Homo sapiens: one gene and its partners. The protein of the gene in region 2 interacts with the protein of the main gene of each other region in a biochemical or structural test. Each region holds a gene or a part of one and is shown on either strand. Other genes may lie near its edges. The genes, in order: RPS6KA5, ATF1 and GABPA.

Evidence for each region.
Region 1: of the proteins of ATF1 (region 2) and RPS6KA5, one has a biochemical effect on the other in vitro, tested with the Homo sapiens proteins (one study listed by BioGRID).
Region 3: the proteins of ATF1 (region 2) and GABPA form a complex in vitro, tested with the Homo sapiens proteins (one study listed by BioGRID).

What each region holds. Positions count from the first base shown.
Region 1 is NC_000014.9:90,847,522-90,854,641, forward strand, and holds the end of RPS6KA5 (ribosomal protein S6 kinase alpha-5), read right to left. Parts: 3' UTR 340-7,120; downstream 1-339. UniProt on the Homo sapiens protein: Serine/threonine-protein kinase that is required for the mitogen or stress-induced phosphorylation of the transcription factors CREB1 and ATF1 and for the regulation of the transcription factors RELA, STAT3 and ETV1/ER81, and that contributes to gene activation by histone phosphorylation and functions in the regulation of inflammatory genes.
Region 2 is NC_000012.12:50,816,057-50,821,738, forward strand, and holds the end of ATF1 (cyclic AMP-dependent transcription factor ATF-1), read left to right. Parts: intron 1-3,578; coding exon 3,579-3,723; 3' UTR 3,724-5,106; downstream 5,107-5,682.
Region 3 is NC_000021.9:25,758,969-25,766,088, reverse strand, and holds part of GABPA (GA-binding protein alpha chain), read right to left. Parts: intron 3,778-7,120; coding exon 3,724-3,777; intron 3,451-3,723; exon of another isoform or gene 2,708-3,450; intron 1,880-2,707; coding exon 1,739-1,879; intron 1,495-1,738; coding exon 1,302-1,494; intron 1-1,301.

The DNA of each region.
Region 1 (7,120 bases), on a different chromosome or scaffold from region 2:
CTCATTTTCTGGAACCCTCGAAGGATGGGGGCTTGATGAAGGGAGGCATGAATGGGTCCTAGGGGAAAAGACCTTTCAGAACACTAAATGGGCGAGTGGCTTCCTTCTCCTTTTAAGCCGTCCTTCAGGGCAGTTCAGAAAACGCTGCATTCAGTTATCCACACACGGTTTTCATTCAAGCATAAGTTAATGTGAGTCTTCTAAGATGTAAATTCACTGATACAGATTGTTGTGCTTCTTTAACACTCTCACTTATTTCCAAGATCCAACATACCTACCCCCACGCCCCGAAAAGCAAACAAACAAACAAACAAACAAACCACAAGTCCAAGTCAGATATCAGGCATTTGTACATTGACAGGTTTATTCTTAAAGCTTGAACAAATACATCTTTACACACACACAAGTTGGTAAAAAGTAAGCCCTTACTGCTTTGTTAAAAATAAAACCCATACATAAAGCTTTCCGGTCAAATTCCCGAAACATGAAAACATCACATTTCTACAATACATCTGCTTTTTTGATTCATGTGTGTTTTCAACACAGCTCAACAACTCATTCCGATCTACCCAAACAAAGAGAAAACTAACTTCCAGACCATGAAGGAAAAAAAAATACATGCCTCTTATAACTGTTAAAGACAAGTAGCTATAGAATTCTGAAAATTCTCAATAAATAGTTACTAGTATAAAAATGCTTAACTCCATATAGCTCACCTTTAATCAAAGGCAGTACCAGTTATCGCTATAATAAAGCACTCAAAGAACATCGAAATAACTTCATATCTATAGCAACGAAGGGAACATGGAACATTAGCCCTCCTAAACAATTCCAGAAGAGGGAAGTTCATTATGAATTAATACTTGGAAGATTCTAGCCCAGCTAGAATAGATTTTAAAAAACTACAATAAAGTATATAAATATGAAATTCAGAAAAGCAGATAAAGAAAAGCTGTCACTTAATAACACAGGTGGCAGCAACCAAAAATATCATTCCCTCTGGGGGGAATTAATGCTAGATTAATGTGAATAAAATAAAGGAAAATGACATAAAATGAAGATACAAAATAAAATTGATCCTTGATGTGAGAATAACTGTATTCCTTGCATGTTCAGAATGTCCTTATGTTCTTCTAGAGAGACTTAGAAAAAAAAAGCCATGCAAATAAAAATCTCATTACATGCCAGCTGAGTGACTTGCAAAGGTTTGCCCCAGAAGGGCTTTTTAAAGAGGCTAAAGACATTCTAATTGCCATCCAAATTGATGTTTACACCAAAATAAGAAGAAATCATCTACTCCCAAAGCAAATCCTATCTATGGACTTCATAGAATCCCTTATACTTTGTAACATTTTCTGCTTCCTTCTTAAAAACCTAGGGGGAAGGTGAGCTCCTGGGACATAAATACGCAGGGAAAGAACCTCATTAAGCCAGGCAGAGGATGGCAAAGATCAACAAAAGAAAAGAGTCCACCGCACTCCAGCCTGGGCAACAGAGCAAGGCCGCATCTCTAAAAAGTAATAATAAATAAAAGGAAAAAGATGCAAGCAAATTTCTGCAAATAGAAGCGTTCACCCCACAGATGAGAAAAGGGGACTCAGTCGTAACCAGGAGAGCCCGCGCAGGCACCTTGGTGGTCTGAATCTAATAGATGCCACTCTCAAATTCTGAGGAGGATGAATTAGCTACTGCTTATCAGGCAACTAACAGAGCCGGCAACAGAAAGGTTACAAGGCCACCTTCGCAACCAGCCCTTTGAAACTGGAAACAAAGTTTTGGCCAGAGATGAACACGCACCCATATGTCTGAAGACAAAAGTTTTTTAAGAGGGCACGGACTCCGGATCTTTTATCTTATGAATAGATCCACTTTGGTTGGTAATTCTTCTGCCTGACAGGCTGCCTTGGGCTACTACACAGCTGATATGAGTGGACAGCAAAGAGCTGTGTAAACCTGTCTAAAACAGTGCACTTGGTGGCTACATACGGCTAATCGCTGCTAGTGTTTAGAGTCTGTGGCTGACTCATCTCAGTACGGTGACCTGGACTGCAGCAAGATCGGGCACAGCTTCCCTTAGGTGGGAGAAAGAAGGAATACCATGGAGGTGTGTGTGGATGTGTACGCACACAGGAGAGAGTCGGGGCTGGTGGGGAGGCAGAGAGAGAGAAAGGAAAGGCCAAAAGGAAAGTTAAAGGGATTTACTTTATTGATGCTAATGTAGGGGTCAGCTAACAGTAACAAGCTACTACTATTATTTCCCAAAGATGGAACAAAGGGTGACGTTACCCGTTGATGCTAGATGATGTCCTCAAACCTGACGTAGTAAAGGAAAATCAACACATTGTCTCACAGCTTTCTTACCTGGCAGCTGGCACCACATTAGAATCTCCATGGCCGTGCATGGTGGCTCATGCCTGTAATCCCATCACTTTGGGAGGCCCAGGTGGCAGGATCGCTTGAGCCCAGCCTGGGCAACACTGTGAGACCCCACCTATATTTAAAACAAAGGAATCCCCAGTCTCTTTGAAGTATGTGCCTTAGAAGGAAAGTTTCAGGACACTCTGGCACTTTTTTTCTAGTCTGGGAAGGGATCTGTGGGCTTTCTACAAGGGAGCAAACAACCTCAATTCTTTCCTCTGGGATCCCGTCAGCTTCTCCTTCCCCAGAGGTCCTGACATTGCTTACCAGCCATTGACCTGAAATGAACTGCTTCAACGTGTTCTGAAGGACCTTTAAATAAGAGATGGTAATAAATCCAGCTGCTACAGAATGACAAGAAGAACAGTCATGATTGTAGTCAATTTTAAAAATAGACATCCTTTCCCTTCTTGCTCCCTCCCATAAATACTAAATGGAAGAAGACACAAATAGAAAGAGAAGAAAGTATTTTTAATCTATTAAGAAAATGAAGAAAACAACCTAATCAATGTGGGAAACCATACAAAAAAAAAAAAAAAAAACAGAAAATATTACATAACCAGGCCTTTTAAATAAGGATGGAATTCAATAAAAAACTTAAAATGCTTACATCTTCTGAAATAACCCATGATTAGCTCCAAGTTTTAGAAAGTTCTTGAACAAAAGGTACACATCAAAGTAGTGAGGTAGCAGCCCCCACTTTCCCAAAAAGTTTTCAGGAAAAGGCTGCACAAGCACCTGTTGGTGAGGTCACCAGGAAGGAATCTGCTTCCGGCAGGAAATTGCACTGGGTGAGCTCTAAGGCTCCTAAACTCTAAGATTCTCGTATGTGCTGAAAACACTGCTATGACGACAGTTTGATCTGATCATCTATGCATTCCTCTGAAATAAATGAAGTCAATTCAAATAAGACATTCTACAAATTAGCCAAGCACAATGATATATTTTAAACCCACACTCAGACCGACAGTGTACACCATAAATTTGTACTAGAACAATACCCATAAATATAAAAAATCTACTTAATTTTATACTTTGTTAGTTCCTACTTCAAAATGCTAGTCAATATTCACTACAGAGAAGTGGGTAAAGATACTTTTATTTTATTTTTTTTTTGAGACAGAGTCTCACTCTGCCCCCCAGGCTGGAGTGCAGTGGCGTGATCTCGGCTCACTGCAAGCTCCGCCTCCCGGGTTCATGCCATTCTCCTGCCTCAGCCTCGTGAGTAGCTGGGACTACAGGCGCTCATCACCATGCCTGGCTAATTTTTTTGTACTTTTAGTAGAGACGGGGTTTCACCGTGTTAGCCAGGATGGTCTTGATCTCCTGACCTCGTGATCCACCCTCCTCAGCCTCCCAAAGTGCTGGGATTACAGGAGTGAGCCACCGCACCTGGCCTGGTAAAGATACTTTTAAAATTAAATTGCTATATAACAGAAAGTCTTCATTATTAAATATCATTCTACCCATCTTTGGAATCAGTGTACCTTATGGATTTTTTTAATCCTCTTTAATCGATCCCTCAGTATGCTGGTGAGACAGGGAGGCACAGGTTAACCCCATTTTACAGATGAAGAAATGGAGGCAAAGGGAGGCTGAGTGATTTGCTCAGGGTCACCAAGTCTGCAGCTAAGCTGGAAATAAAGTACCAAACTGCCTTTTCCACAAAATCCTCAGTAATACTCAGAGAGAGTGTCATATCTAGTACATTTTACTCTTCACTTAAAACCAAGGGTTCAGGGAAAAAGGAAGGAATTAAGTGAGCTCTTTGGGTAACCTTGTTTTCTTCTAGAGGATGAAGGTATTTCTCTTTAGATACTGGTAGATATCATTAGTAAAAACTGAATGGTTTTTACTAATAAAGCTGGGCACAGGCCAAGGCAGACATGAATGACAGGCTTTATCTTTCATGGCTCAGTTCTCACAAGAGGCTCACTGTACAAGGTCCAACTTTGCATCTAACTTCAACACACAGCCTTCCCAATCATCTCACAGCGTTTATTTGAACAAAAAAGACAGAATTTAATATATTCGTTGATCTAAAGAAATAAACAGTATTATTCAGTAATAGTCCTAGTATATAAAAACGTGGCATTCATCTACAGCAAAGACAAATTATCGGTATCTTTTCTTTAAAAAATCACTTTTTTTTTTTTTTTTTTTTTTTTAAGACGGAGTCTCGCTCTGTCGCCCAGGCTGGAGTGCAGTGGTGTGGTGCGATCTTGGCTCACTGCAAGTTCTGCTTCCCGGGTTCACGCCATTCTCCTGCCTCAGCCTCCCAAGTACCTGGGACTACAGGTGCCCACCACCATGCCTGGCTAATTTTTTGTATTTTTATTAGAGACGGGGTTTCACCATGTTAGCCAGGATGGTCTCGACCTCGTGATCTGCCCGCCTCGGCCTCCCAACACTTTTGTTTAAAAAATGGAAATTTCTTCTAAAATGGTTTTTCAAAGCTATGGCTCATAAGGAAATAACTAATTGTCAATGTCTAAATACCTTAAAAAGAAGCATATATGTAAGTATTAGTCCAATCATGTGAAACCCAATAAAACAAGATTTGATTTGAAAACATTTTCAATGAAAAGTGCAAAGGTTAAGGGAAAAACAGCATCTGATATGTGCACCCTATTGTAAAGAATTGGTATTTAATGCTGCAATGGAGTACTAACCACTAATTTCCAGTTTGCCACATGAAAGGCATACTTCCAACTTTTATTTTATCCACATTAAAAGTATTTGTCTTTAAACAAAAATAAATTCCAGTTAGCCTTTGCTGGGAGAAACTTTTTTTTTTTTTTTTTTTTTGAGACAGAGTCTTGCTCTGTCGCCCAGGCTGGAGTGCAGTGGCGCGATCTCGGCTCACTACAAGCTCCGCCTCCCGGGTTCATGCCATTCTCCTGTCTCAGCCTCCCCAGTAGCTGGGACTACAGGCGCCTGCCACCACGCCCGGCTAATTTTTGTTGTATTTTTAGTAGAGACAGGGTTTCACCATGTTAGCCAGGATGGTCTCAATCTCCTGACCTTGTGATCCGCCCGCCTCGGCCTCCCAAAGTGCTGGGATTACAGGCATGAACCACCGTGCCCGGCCTGGGAGAAACATTTTTAAGTGTGCAAAGCAGTCACAATGAAAAAAGCCCCGGATGTTAGCAAAAAGAGTGAATGTGTTTGCCGTTCTATAAATAAAATGAGTTCACTATAAAAAAAATTGTTATGATGCTTTACTTAATTTGCCCATTTCTCAACATAGGCTTTGAAAAATTCCTCTAAATGAAACAACTTTATAAGGGATGAAGATGTCATAATGATATTTTCCACTGTAGAAACTTCTTAGGTTATCACTCAAAAAACAAAACAAAAGCCAAAACCTAGCAGAAACAAATGACTAATCAAACTAAAATTTCAAAGAGTAGATTCATCAAACTAAGATCTCCCATTAAGACATCAACAATGAAGTGGCTAATAAAAAAGTAAGCATCACATTTATGATGTCTAGATAAAAGTCAACCAAATAAATAAGATGCATCCCTTAAGTAACAACAATAAAAAAAAAACCCAAAAACAAAACAAAGCATCAATGGATGTTTTAAATACCTAAAATTTAGGTTGGGCACAGTGGCTCACGCCTGTAATCCCAGCACTTTGGGAGGCCGAGGCAGGCAGATCATCAGGGCAGGAGTTCGAGACCAGCCTGACCAACATGGTGAAACCCCATCTCTACTAAAAATACAAAAAAAAAAAAAAAAACCCTAAAATTTAACACTATGAAGTCTCTATATTAAATCAAAATCGTAACCATCTTGAAAGCTAAATTAAAATAATCCTGGAGCTCTGGAATGTTATTCCCTCTTAAAGCTGTATTAGGTCTTTAGGAAATCAATGTGGTGTTACTAGTTTATGTGTATCCCATTATTCATTTAAAAAGAAACGAACACAAATATTTCACACCCTTTTTCTTGATTAATCATTTGTACCAGAGAAAACTCTGTATATACCAGTACAGGTGGGGGATTACTGGCAGGGCAGATAGTCGATTTAAGGAGTGAGGGGCAGTCTTATTAATTTGGTATTGTAAGCCCCCAATACATGTGTGTATACACATACATAAACACACACCTATGTAATTTTCACAAGACCAAACTATTAAAGTACCTAGAAAATAGAATATTTTTTCCTCTAAACTAAGATATCTGTTTATATAGACTATTGATGCAAACTAATTTTAAGTAATTATAGTGCAAGGAGCCTGATGTATGAAGATTTGACATTGTAATTTATAATTCCTAAGTAATTATTAAATGATTAATGTTTAATCATTAATCATTTAATAATAAATGGCTACCAGATTTAGAACAAAACTTACTGTAGCCATTATAATCTGCTAACGTTTGAAAAACTTAACATGAAATCAGCACAGAAACTAAGTTTTTAGAAATAGCCTACATAATGAAGATTATGTATTATATAGTCACAAATTTTTATTTTAGATTTCACAATGTACACTTGTCTCAAGTAAGTCTATTTAACTAGAATTTTTAAAGACTTGCGATTTTGCTAAATGTATCATCATTAGAAAAAGTTTTCTGGATGTGTATATGAGCAGGGTTTGATTATTCTGACATCAGAAAGCCAACACTAGATTCCACAGCAAGGACACTGGAATTTAAAAATCTGGAATACTTTAACAGTAGACTTTACTCAA
Region 2 (5,682 bases):
GGGCGTGGTGGCTTATGCCTGTAATCCCAGCACTTTGGGAGGCCGAGGCGGGAGGATCACTTGAGCCTAGGAGTTCAATGCAAGCCTGGGCAACATACCCATTGCTACAAAAGATAAAAAATTAGCCAGGCATGGTGGCGTGTGCCTAAAATCCCAGCTACTCGGGAGGCTGAGGTGGGAGGATTGCTTGAGCCCAGGGGGTTGAGGCAGCATGATCGCACCACTGCACTTCAGCCTGGGCAACAGAGCAAGACCCTATCTCAAGAAAAAAGAGAGAATGGAAAAATAGGTAACAGAGACTGGGAACGGTGAGGGGCAAGGAGGAGGATGAAGAGAGTTAAAGGGTACAAACCCATACACAGTAAGATAAAAGGAATAAATTCAGTGTTTCATAGCAGAGTAGGATGACCACCCTTAACAAAAACCTATTAATACTCAGGTGATGGACACCCTGAATCCCCTGACTTGATCGCTACACATTATATACATGTAACAGATTTTCTCATGTGCTCCATAAATATGCACAGAAACATTTTAATGGAAAAAACCATACAGGCCAGGCGTGGTGGCTCACACGTGTAATCCCAGCATTTTCGGAGGCCAAGGCAGGAGGATCACTTGAGCCCAGGAGTTTGAGACCAGCCTGGGCAATATAGGGAGACCCCATCTCTAAAAAAAATTTAAAACATTAGCTAGATGTGGTAGAGGCAGGAGAATCACTTGAACCTGGAGGCAGAGGTTGCAGTGAGCCATGATCACGCCATTGTACTTCAGCCTGGGCAACAGAGCAAGACTCTTGTCTCAAAAATAAAACAAACAAAAAAAAACACACAAGTAGTTAATAATCATATAAAAGACTACTCAGCCTTATTAGTAATCAAAGAAATACACATTAATGCTACACATTTAGATACCCTTTATACCCACCCAATTGGCAAAAATTTTAAAGTCTAACCAAGAGTTGGCAAGGATTTGGAACAATGGTCAGGAATTCATAGATACTACTATAGGAGTGTAAATTGATGCAGCCATTTTGGAAATTAGGCCTTATCTTGTACAGTTGACGTGGGTATACTCTGTGACCCAGCTGTTTTAGTCTGTGTGACTGAGAGGAACTTGGAGGAAGTATGTATAAGAATTTTCATAGCAGCAAAAAATCAGGAAACAACCTCAAGATTCATTGATAACAGAATAGGTACATATTGAGCCTAAACATAAAAATGGGGGGAAAAAAGAATAGGTACATAAATTGTGACTGTATTTATAGAATGGAATGTTTATTTGTAATGACTGAATGAATAATCATTTCAACATGAATAAATCTTAGAAAAATTGAATGAAAAAACAAGTTGCAACAGAATACACAAAGTATGATATTTTATAATTTTAGAAAATAAATGATAGCAGTTTTAGGGTCATATACGTATATACTACAACTATAAAAATAAGAAATGAGATGTCACGTAGCAAAAATTATAAAGTGGTAATACTGTCTGTCATTGGGCATATAAGGAAAAGGGTACCTCACATACATTACTGAGGGAAGTACGGAGTTTTATGGTATCTACTTGCCCCAACATTTCTACTTGTATGTGACAAAAGATACCATAAAGAAACTTAAAAATAAGTCTGTTAACTGGGAAAAATATTTGCAACTTTTATATAAAGAGAAAGAATTACGAGATGTATAGGTTATATAAAGATTTATTTCTGTAAATAAGAGACCTAACAGAAGGAAACCGGTCTGTGAAAGATGGCCTTGTAAACATGAAATTATTCCAAACTTTGTGCATAATGAGGGAAATGTTAAAGCAGTGAGGTTCGCTTTTTGTCAGCCGCTAGACTGACAACCATTTTAAAATGTTCATAACAGGCACTCTCATGTACTGCCCCTGGGAATGTAAATGGTACAAATACTCTGGAGGACATTCTGGCATTTTTTCCCTTTTTTCTTTCTGGTTTGACTCTGGGATTTTTTTCCTTCCTTTTTTCCCCCCTTATTTCTCTGTACTTCAATGAATATAAATTGGCACTATCTCTTGACTTTAAGTGAATATAGCTTGTGATCCTTCAAGAAATACATGTGTAGAAATACACGTAAAGAATGGAGGCTGAGTGGGTGGCTCATGCCCATAATCCCGACACCGTGACCAGGAGTGAGACCAGCCTAGGCAACATACTGAGACCTCATCTCTACAAAAATAAAATTAGCTGGTGTGGTGGTGTACACCTGTAGTCCCAGCTACTTGAGAGGCTGAAGTGGGGATATCTTGAGTCCAGGAGGTCAAGGTTGCAATGAGCTGTGATTGTGCCACTGCACTCAGCCTGGTTGACAGAGTGAGACCCTGTCTCAAAACAAAAGAAGAAAAAAGAAAAAGAATGTTTACTGGAAACCACTTAAAACAAACAAACAAACAGAGCTTAAAGGTAAAAATAAAGTCTTTTTGTGAGGGGAAAGATTTTGTACAGTCCTTTTAAAGATGTGTACTAAAAAGCAAGTTGCAAATAGTATCTACATATATAGCATAAAAATCTTAAAATAGTACTGTTTCTTTCTTTCTTTCTTTTTCTGAGACAGAGTCTTGCTCTGTTGCCCAGGGTGGAGTGCAGTGGCGCGATCTTGGCTCACTGCAACCTCCACCTCCCAGCTTCAAGTGATCCTCCTGGGTCAGACTCCCAAGTAGCTGGGATTACAGGCATGTGCCACCACAGCTAATTTTTGTATTTTTAGTAGAGATGAGGTTTTGCCATGTTGGCCAGGCTGGTCTCGAACTCCTGACCTCAGGTGATCTGCCCGCCTTGGCCTCTTAAAGTGCTGGGATTACAGGCATGAGCCACCATGCCTGGCCAATACTTCCGATTTCTATATGTATATAAACTTACATATGACTTCACAGAAATGTTTTAAGAGGACATGCACAGAACTGAGTATTTGCTCAAGCATTGTTTGTAATTTGAACTTAAATAAAAGAAGTCATGTGTCAGAAGTTAACCAGAGGACCCATAATTTCACTCTTTGGTATTTATTCAAGAGAAATGAAACCTTTCTACAAAAAGACTGGCACAAAAACATGCCTATGCAGCTAACCCTAGAAACATCGCAAGAGACTGGATACACAAATGGTGGTTATATTCATACAGTGAACTATGTCCAGCAGTGTGAAGGAACAAACCCCCATGCAGCAACATGGATGAACCTCAGATGGGCTGAGTGAAGGGACACCAGAGTACATAGTGTATGACACTCTTACATGAGGTTCTAGAATAGGAAAAAAACTAATCTCTGGTGATAAAAATCAAAACGATAGTTGCTTGGAAGGGGGCTGACCAGGAAGGGGCATGAGGGAACTTTCTGGGACAGTGGGAATGTTCTGTTGTCTTGACAGAGGTGTGGGTTATACAGGTATACACAATTGCCAAAACTGACTGAATTCTACACTTAAGATCTATGTATTCTCTGTGTGTAGATGATACTTTAAAGAGAAAAAAAGGTGACCACGGAAAATTACTGAAGAACATTTACCATTTAAAGAATGTGAAGTTTTTTCTAACATTGTTTTTTTAATGCTCATATTTAGAGAAGCTGCTCGAGAATGTCGCAGAAAGAAGAAAGAATATGTGAAATGCCTGGAAAACCGAGTTGCAGTCCTGGAAAATCAAAATAAAACTCTAATAGAAGAGTTAAAAACTTTGAAGGATCTTTATTCCAATAAAAGTGTTTGATTCCTAAGAAAGAAAATATTTTTGTGGACATGCATAAAAATTAAATGGATTTCCTAGTGGAGTTTTATAAATTAAAAGGTCAAAACTGAAGCTTTTTATTTAGGCTTTTCCAAATCAAGGATAAATATCTTACGCACGATATCTAGTGACAGAGGAGAAAGTGGAAAATGACCTCAAGGAAGCTACGGGCACAACTGGAAGCTTTGTAGAAATTAAACATATTCAAGGAGCAAGAAATGAACTTTCAGCAGTCTAAATTTTCTAAATAACCAATAGTTGCCAATCTAAAATGGCAGAGAAGATGAAATTTGATAAACTGAATTTTTTTTAAAAATCCATTTACCCTACAGGTTTGCATTTGTTTGCTGAAATTTACCTTTTTTTAGTTATATATATGTGTGTGTGTGTGTGTAATTTCTGCCAATAAATTCTAAATTACAAAGGTAAGAGAAAACCTAGTACATTACTAAATATATAAAGTATATGTTCTGATTATGTATACTTGTTCTAGTGTCAAGTCTTTTTAAGTGGGTTTTTAAAAGTTTGTTATTGGACTTGAATGGATTTTTGAGACTAGGTTAATTATTTTTGAGGTCTTATCCTAAAAGGCATCTAAGGTACATGAATGGAGTATGGTGATTTTATAACATTTTTTATCAGAATGGAAAAAGAACTGTTTAAAAGTTTGATACTTTTAAATAGTTGGTTTTTTTGCTTACTCTGGTAATGATTTTCTACAAATACATAATAAATTGTTTTTTTGAGTCTATATTCTGTATGCAGTTGAATATCCATTACTTATTCTGCTGTGCTTTAATAGAATGGAATGTTTACAGGCCCTTAAAATATTATTTTTAAAAAACCTTCTGAAGATACATACCAAAGTTTTTCCAAGAAGATTTTATAATCAATTTAATAATGTAAGGTTTATCAGATTCTATAATAGTATAGTTATTAAGGCAATTTTATGTTAGAGACTATTTTGTAATGTAGTGAGTGGTACCTTTATAAGAAAAGTGACTGCCAATATATTTTTATAGCTGATCTTTATAAATTCTAATGTTGAGTTTTTAATGATTATTTTAAATGTTTATATAGTTTAGTAAAATTTGCATCTCAAAGTATCATTTTTATATTATGGGACGTTTTCAGATTGGCTAATATTTGCATTGTAAATTTTGTATGCAGTTTATCTAAAATTCAAAAATACTGTCAGTACACCAGCGTTTAACATCTATATTCCAATTTGTATACAGTTTAAAATTGTACTGCAAAACTATTGTGTGCTCTTACACAGTATGCATCATATTGTTGTCTGTGAAATTAAAGGACATTTGATAGTCTACTGAATGTAAAATATAATGCTTGGTATATGAATGATAAGCTTGCTCCTGGCCATGCTGTTAATTATCCTAATGCTACGTAGAAATCTTCACTTAACTGATACATTTGTGTTTGACCCTCCTGATGAAATTTCTCATTAGAAGGGTCTTTTAAAATGGGACTCTGTTGACTTGGCAGCACTTTATGAAAAGAAAAAAAAGTTTGATCGCCAGGGGGATTACTTATATCACTTACTACCTTGTGTAAAGCCAGAATCTCAAACTGGTGGCCCGTTAGGCCTAAGAATATGAGGAGGTATGAGGTCACTGGGTTATGTCAAAAGACTTTTTCAACAGATGATAATATATTATTGGGTAGACACCGTGCTTGTTTACAACAGAGGTAGCCTAGCTCTTAGTGCCTTAACAGCTGGACATCTGCAAATATTTGTAAACTCTGCTGCCTTCAGACTTCTGGTGTAGGGCCTTGCTAACTAGACCCAGTTACTTACTCTAGCTGTATGAAACAGGTCAGGGCAAACCATTAATGGTTCCATAAATGCATAACAAATTATTTTCCTGGGTGTTTTTCTAATTGGAATCCAATGTGGGGCTTATCAAATTTTTAAGTGATTAT
Region 3 (7,120 bases), on a different chromosome or scaffold from region 2:
ATGGCCTATTTGTCTTGAGAAAATAGCATAACTGTCTTATTACTGTAACTTTAGAGTCAGTCTCAATATCCTGTGGGACAAGTCTTTCCACTTTGCTAATCTTCAGGTGTCCTGACTACCATGGTACTTTATAGTCCCATGTAAATTTTACAATTATCTTCTCAAGTTCTATGAAAAACTTAGTTTGATTTTTCAAATTAAACTAAGTTGCTGCACTGAAACTTAGATCAATCTGGGGGGGAACTGACATCTTAATTATTAACTCTAACAATTTACCTGTAATTTTGAGGGGACTTGTATGTATACAATCTGTATCAACTCTCAAAAATGGCAGCTTTAATTATGATTATAAACGAAGAATCTTTAGACAGTTGGCAATGTGTTTGAGACTGAATGGTAAAGGATAAGCATTTTGAAAACTAAACATTTTAGTTACTCATGAACTCTGAGAAAAAAAGGGTCATTCAGGAAAAGAAAAATAATCACAGCCAACTATGTAATAATAGTTACATGGCCGTAATACTGTAACAATGAATACTCGCTGAACCAAAATTTCCATATAATTATATTGGGATACTGAGATGAAGGGATGGAAAGGGGAAGGGAGAGTGTGTGTGTGTGAGCTAAATTATAATCTTTCAGTGTGAAAATGGCCAAGTGAAACATGAAGAAGCAGTAAAAGCATGCTATTTAGAAAAACTCGTGAATTGCAGAACTATTTTACTATATTCAATCTCCCAAAAAATCAGACATAATTCCGTGATATTCTTATATATCCTTCTTCTCAGATACTTAAATGTACCTGTTGAATTTCCATCACTGTAGTAGGCATAATTTCTGATAGTAATTTCTGTCAAAAAACCTTATACTACTTACGGAGAGTTTGTATCAATGTAAAGATTGGATATCCAGATTTAGGCAGATTGTGTAGAAAATGGGTCAATATTCTGCTTGTAATTGTAAAAACAGAGGACAGTTTCTGCTTACTCATTAAAAACTAACACTCAATTCATCTATGCAAATAATAAAAACCTCAAAAATTAAACATTTTTTTTTGGGACAGAGTATTATAGCTTTCAAATCAGATAAAAACAAACAATCTTAGAGTAATTTTGTAAAAAAAAAACTGTACCTCGAAATTATTAAGATCTTTTTAAAAAGGTTTTTTAATATGTAAAGAAAAAAACATAAACAAGTTTTTAATATCATTACATAACAATGCTTATTACATCTAGAATAAGAAACTATTTTTTAGAAAGTTTCTATTTTTGATAACAGAAAAAAAAGTAATAAAGGCTTACCTTAATGCACGACTGAGTTTCTCATAGTTCATCGTAGGCTTATTTTTACGCTGTCCCCATTTCTGTGCAACCAGTTCAGGCTGATTTAGCTTAAATTCACCTTCATCACCAACCCAAGAAATGCAGTCTCGAGCGTCCTTATCAGTAAGAAGTTCTAGCAAAAACTGCCATAGTTGGATTTGGCCATTGTTTCCTAAATTGGTAAGAGGAACAAAGCATTAGCTATAGTGTTATAGATTAGCCCAAGGCAAAGACAACAAACTGGTCCCGTGGTTTAAATCTCAGCCATGGCAAAAACAATTTTTGTTTTTCTAGAAATGCTGTCTAAAAACTGCCAGAGGGATAGTCCAAATTCACATTTTTCATACAGTAAAATACAACAAAATATACCTAATTAGATAGATATATTTTATAAATACAAGAAAATACAAAAATACCTGTTCTGTTCCCAGGTGAGCTTCTATCTTCTCCTGAAATCCTCGGCGCTCTTTGTACTTTGGCTGCTTTCGCACTACTATTTATAACTTTAATGGTAGTAGGTGTAGCAGATTGCACTGATGCTGGAATAATTTGCACAGCTGCAAAGACAGACAAGGAGAAATTTTTTTTCTTCCAATACAAGCAGGAAAAAAAAAAAATTACTGAAAGACATTATCACTTTAACTAATGCCCTATGAATTACCCCCAAGAAAGTACTTCACTACAGAAAGCCTCAATCCACAATTTCAAACAAAATAACAAAAAAGTTCAGATGGTAAAGTATAACGCTTGCATTATAGTTTGTGCATCTTAGTAAGAGCTAGTATTCTTGTTTGGAAATAACTTAGTGATGCATACACATTAGACAAAGAGTATTTAAACATGTTTGTTCTTAAAACATTTGTTCATAAAAACGGTTTGTCAAATATATTGTACTAAATGTGGACAAATGAGAATTCACACCACCACTTTGAGAATCTGGCAATATCTGGAGTAAGGCTGAAAGGATAGAAACCCTATGACACGAACATCTCACACATGTTCTTACAAATATTCATTCAATGATGTTTTCACAGCATTTAAAAGATACAGCAGTGAAAATGAATGAAACAGCTGCAAGTATCAACATGAGTAATTCTCAAATGATAAAAAAGTTATAAAATAATATGTACAATGTATTATTTTACAAACAATGTTTAAACATGTGGAAAACAATGCTATACAGTGTTTACGATTACATAGTTGGTAAAAATATAAAATATGCAGACAGTAATAAACATAAAATTCAAGATAGTTCTCTGGTAGGAGAGAGGAAAATGAAACCTACAACAGGTATACTTGGTGTAAAAAATTTTATTTCTAATGATGTACACAGGTGTTAGTTATACTTTCTTTGTGTATCTCAAATTCCTCATTAAAAATTTTAGCCGGTTGGGATGATCTTGTGACGTGTGTGTTCGTACCTCAGGTAAAACATAGCTAAAAGCTTATGGCATAAGCGGAAAAGAAAGATGCATGCTGAAAAGGGGGGAAAAATGCCCCAAAAGAGCTCAGCAGGCTTAAAAGTATTCTCAAACTAGACAGTAATGTTTTAATGAAAGATGTTTAAGAGACAGCAACTGTGGTGGTACCCAAACCCAAACATGCCAAGAGAAAATGCAACATGAGGTAAAAGATGGAAAAGATGACATGAAAATGGAGATGGATATTAAGAGAAACAAAAAGACTCTTCTAGACTGTACTTCTAGCAAGTACAGTACCCAATATAGATGAATCAAAGGTAAAGAATAAAGCTGAAGGCAAAGCGAGAGAAAAGAAAGGGGAAAAGCCAAGCAAAAGTAGTGGAGGCGGCGAAGGGTTTGCCCTGGTAGACTCTTCAAGCCTTGGAAAATGCCACATGGGACAGATGATCCATTAGAATGTATACAACTGTATACTTTGATTGCAACTCCCACCAAATGAAAACTATTTGTTTTCCTATTTTAACTTGGCCTTTTTTCTTCATTTCAAACCCATTGTAACTCCTCAAGTTTGTTTTGGACACTTGAATATTTTCTCTGCTGTATCCAACCTATACTGATATTTCAATTGGATGCTACCTAATATCCAGTTATTATCAGGCATGAAAGTTCTGTCAGGTATGAATGTGGTTAGAATTGTTCTTACAACTTGGTAATTAACAGTCAGTAAAGATGAAACAAATGATGTCCTAACAAATTTTGGTGAACTGAGATACAAAGCAAGCTGTTATGTTAATCGTATCATTTAAAAACACATGAGTGGATCTTATAAAGTACTTGTGTCGAGCTTTCATTCCACAGAACAAAAGATATTTTGTGTGTAGAAAAAAAATTTTTTTAAATAATTTTCCTTTTTATTACCTTGCGGTATCAAATAAACATTTCTTATTAATAAAAGGGCAAATATAGGTACAAATACTCACGTTGATCAATTGTAACTATTTCATTCATCTGTTGTTCTTGACTTGCCAATACATCTGAAAAAAACAAAAATTTTTTGTTTTTATTTAAAACCAAAAATATAAAAACCCCAATCCAATAAAACTCAACTTAATAAACATGGTTCTTTTAAAAAGAACTCCACAATTAAAACCAAAACACTGAACTGAAACTTACTGGCATAAAAACCTTAAAAATATTTGATAGTCACTTTAAAAGGAAAAGATACCTTAAGAGAAATAACACAGGGAAAAGCTCCAATGTCTTTTAGTGTTCAGTAAAGTTCTGCAGAGAACTATGGTTTTCTAAATGTAAACATTTGTATTGAAATCCACATAAAGCCATGTAAAAATATGGAAATCTTCAAGATCAGATCAAAGATAAAATATACACCAAAATTAAATTATTTAGGTACGTATCTCCACCAAAAAGGCCTCCTTCCCATTATTTGTTATAACATCCACTTTTGACTAAAGCTGCTTAAGCTTTATAATGCTTCTACTTAAAGACAGCAAATTTTCAACACAATTGTAGCAGTCCTAAATGTCTCAATTAAACTAAATAATTTCACATTTAAAAATATAGTTCCCAAAATAAAAATACTATAAAGGTCCTGAGATAAGGCTTTACAGAACCATTCATTACTTATCTGTTGTTATTCCCTACTTAGATGTTATTCTTTACCTCTCACAAGAATTGCACATCCCAGTCTCTATTACTTCAGCCTACTTTGTGCCCATCACAAATTGCATGCCTCTCTCTTGAAATTGAAACTATACCCTCCAGCAATCATTCTGGGTACTGAGGCCTGGGCTCCCAAGAAGACTCCGCTAAGGGTGCCTTGCCAGGATCCAGTTCCAGACACGCAGAGCTGGAAAAGGTTGGGGAAGTAAAAAGAGGTCAGAATCCTATCAGATGGGAGCTTTGAGGGTCTGAAGACTGAGGACTTAAGAATTATATGGGACTGGCTTCAGACAGATCTGGATTTAGTTCTTAGCTCTTACTGACTATATGACTTTGGTAAAATTACCGACCTCTTTCAACATTAACTTCTTCAAGTTTAAATTAGACACCTATACTTACTGCCTCATGAGGTTATTGTGAGGATTAAAGAAACATGTTTTTAAAAAGCACAGTGCACAAAACAGTTACTTTTTCAGTCAACTGACAACCTCACTGTTTTATCCAGACTCCTAGTTCTGAGCATTCTCCTCCAGAACTGTGGTCTCTCTTGATAAAAAAAATACGCACTTTATGTTTGTAGTAAATTTTCCTCAGAATTTTATAAAAGTTCCTCAAAGAGGAACTATTTGAGACTAAAGGAACCTAGCCTCAAAAGAGGCAAACGAAAGCATCACCATCACACAGCACAGGCATAATCAACTTGTAAAATCACCTTCTAAGTCCTAATTCTCAGATTGGAGTTTGGTCTGTTTCCTGGAAACTCTCAAGACAGAAGGCAGACCACAGGGGGAAAAAAAAAAAGTTTTTGAAAGACTGGTCCAAGACCAATCTCTTCAAAGTACAGGCACTCTGAATATCACATTCCTCCCTGAAACCTCCAAATCCTTGCTACACACAAAGTAAGCAGTCTTGAGAGGCAAAGCCCTGGGGGATATGGAGCCATTTTATGAAGAAACATTAGACACTACAGGAATAAAACAATTATTTTTCCTAAATAAAACCCTTAGCAAACTGAGAACTTCATTTGCCTTTGGTGACAGAAGACAGAGATTCACACCGAGAAGGACATCATGGAACTGGTAGTACTGGGACATTTCCTAATTATCCTCCCATGTATAGTGGGACTTGGATGTAGTTTCAACATAGGGGGGACTGCAGGCAGGTGGTGGCTCAGGTGAATAATCTCATACAAATATCTGAAGAAGGAGCCCTACCTCTTCAGTACTGCTGCTTCTTGAGAGATCACTGAGGATGGATAATAGAGGCTGGGTTATTAACAGTTCTGTCCCAGAATCAGTGCCTTTCGCAGATAGGCTGCAGACTTCTCTCTACAGAAGGGACCAGAGTACTAACTACACTGAGCTCAAAAAACCCTATTCTGAGAAGTAAGACTTGTGAATTCTAGAAAGTCTGTTAGAAATACCCTTACACATCATCCTGCCCATCTCCCAATTCTGAACTGAGCACTAGATTTCCAAAGCAGATGGGATTTCCCTACCCCGGCAGAGTGAAGAACCATGGCTGGATCACCAAGAAATTCCGTGAGACACTCATCTAGGCTGTGGGACTTTGTTGCTTTAAAAGACAAAGCAATGGTTCCAGAGCAGAGCTTTTCTGAGGAAGACTCATTCAACTGCATGGAAATGGAAAGATACACAAGACACCTTTGACTTCTGTTCTGGGAAAAGCCTATGAATAAGCTTTAAAGTTTGAGAAGCAATAAGAGAACCAGAAAGAGACAGCCACAACAAACAGCTGACCTGGGAAAGACTGGAAAAAACGTGGATTTGGGAAAAATGAAACTACCATCTATGCACTATCTTTGTTGTGTTCTTGAGATTTCTTATAAGAAAGTGTTTCAATAAACATGACTCACATGTTTCACAATTCAGAATCTACCTTATTCATTTCAAAACCTCTGCAGGGAAGGAAATCTGTGAAACCAAGGACAAAGCTTCAACCAGGACATTCAACTTACTTATCTAGTAAGAATGGAAATTGGAAATAAATGCTGCAAATACAATGAATGTACTAAGTCTTTTAGTATCATAGATACTTAAAAAAAACATCTGGGAGAATCCTCACAAGAATAAAATTATAAACAATTAAGAAATGCCTCTCTCCAGAGCTCATTTCTTATTCACCAGCAGAGAAAGCACTTTCAACTCCTCATCTCAAGTGATCTGCCCACCCCAGACTCCCAAAGTGCTGGGGTTACAGGAGTGAGCCACTGCACCTGGCCAGAGAAAGCACCTTGAATGAAAACTGCAAGCATTGAATTACGGTGGAAAAATCCCTCCACCAGAGCTCTCTCCTTATTGGGTATATAATAAAACAAAATGCTATCATTAACATTTTCATCCATAACTGATACAAAAGCAAAGTCAGAGTATGTTGTAGTCATGTGTTCTGAAAAATATGTGGGTCTGGCTAGCATTTCTGATATGCAAAACTGTCAAGGAATGGGTTGCTTTCGGTGTCTTAACAGTGACTGAAATATAAGATGGATTAAAATTCAAGCAAAAATAATTTACATTTGTGCCTTGTTTTCTTGGACAGCCAAGTAGTTTCCAAACTTCTCTCTCTCTTTTTTTTCCAATTGAGACTCTTGCTCTGTCACCATGCTGGAGTGTAGTGGCGCAGTCTCAGCTCACTGCAACCTCCGCCTTTCAGGTTCAGGCTATCCTCTCGCCTCAA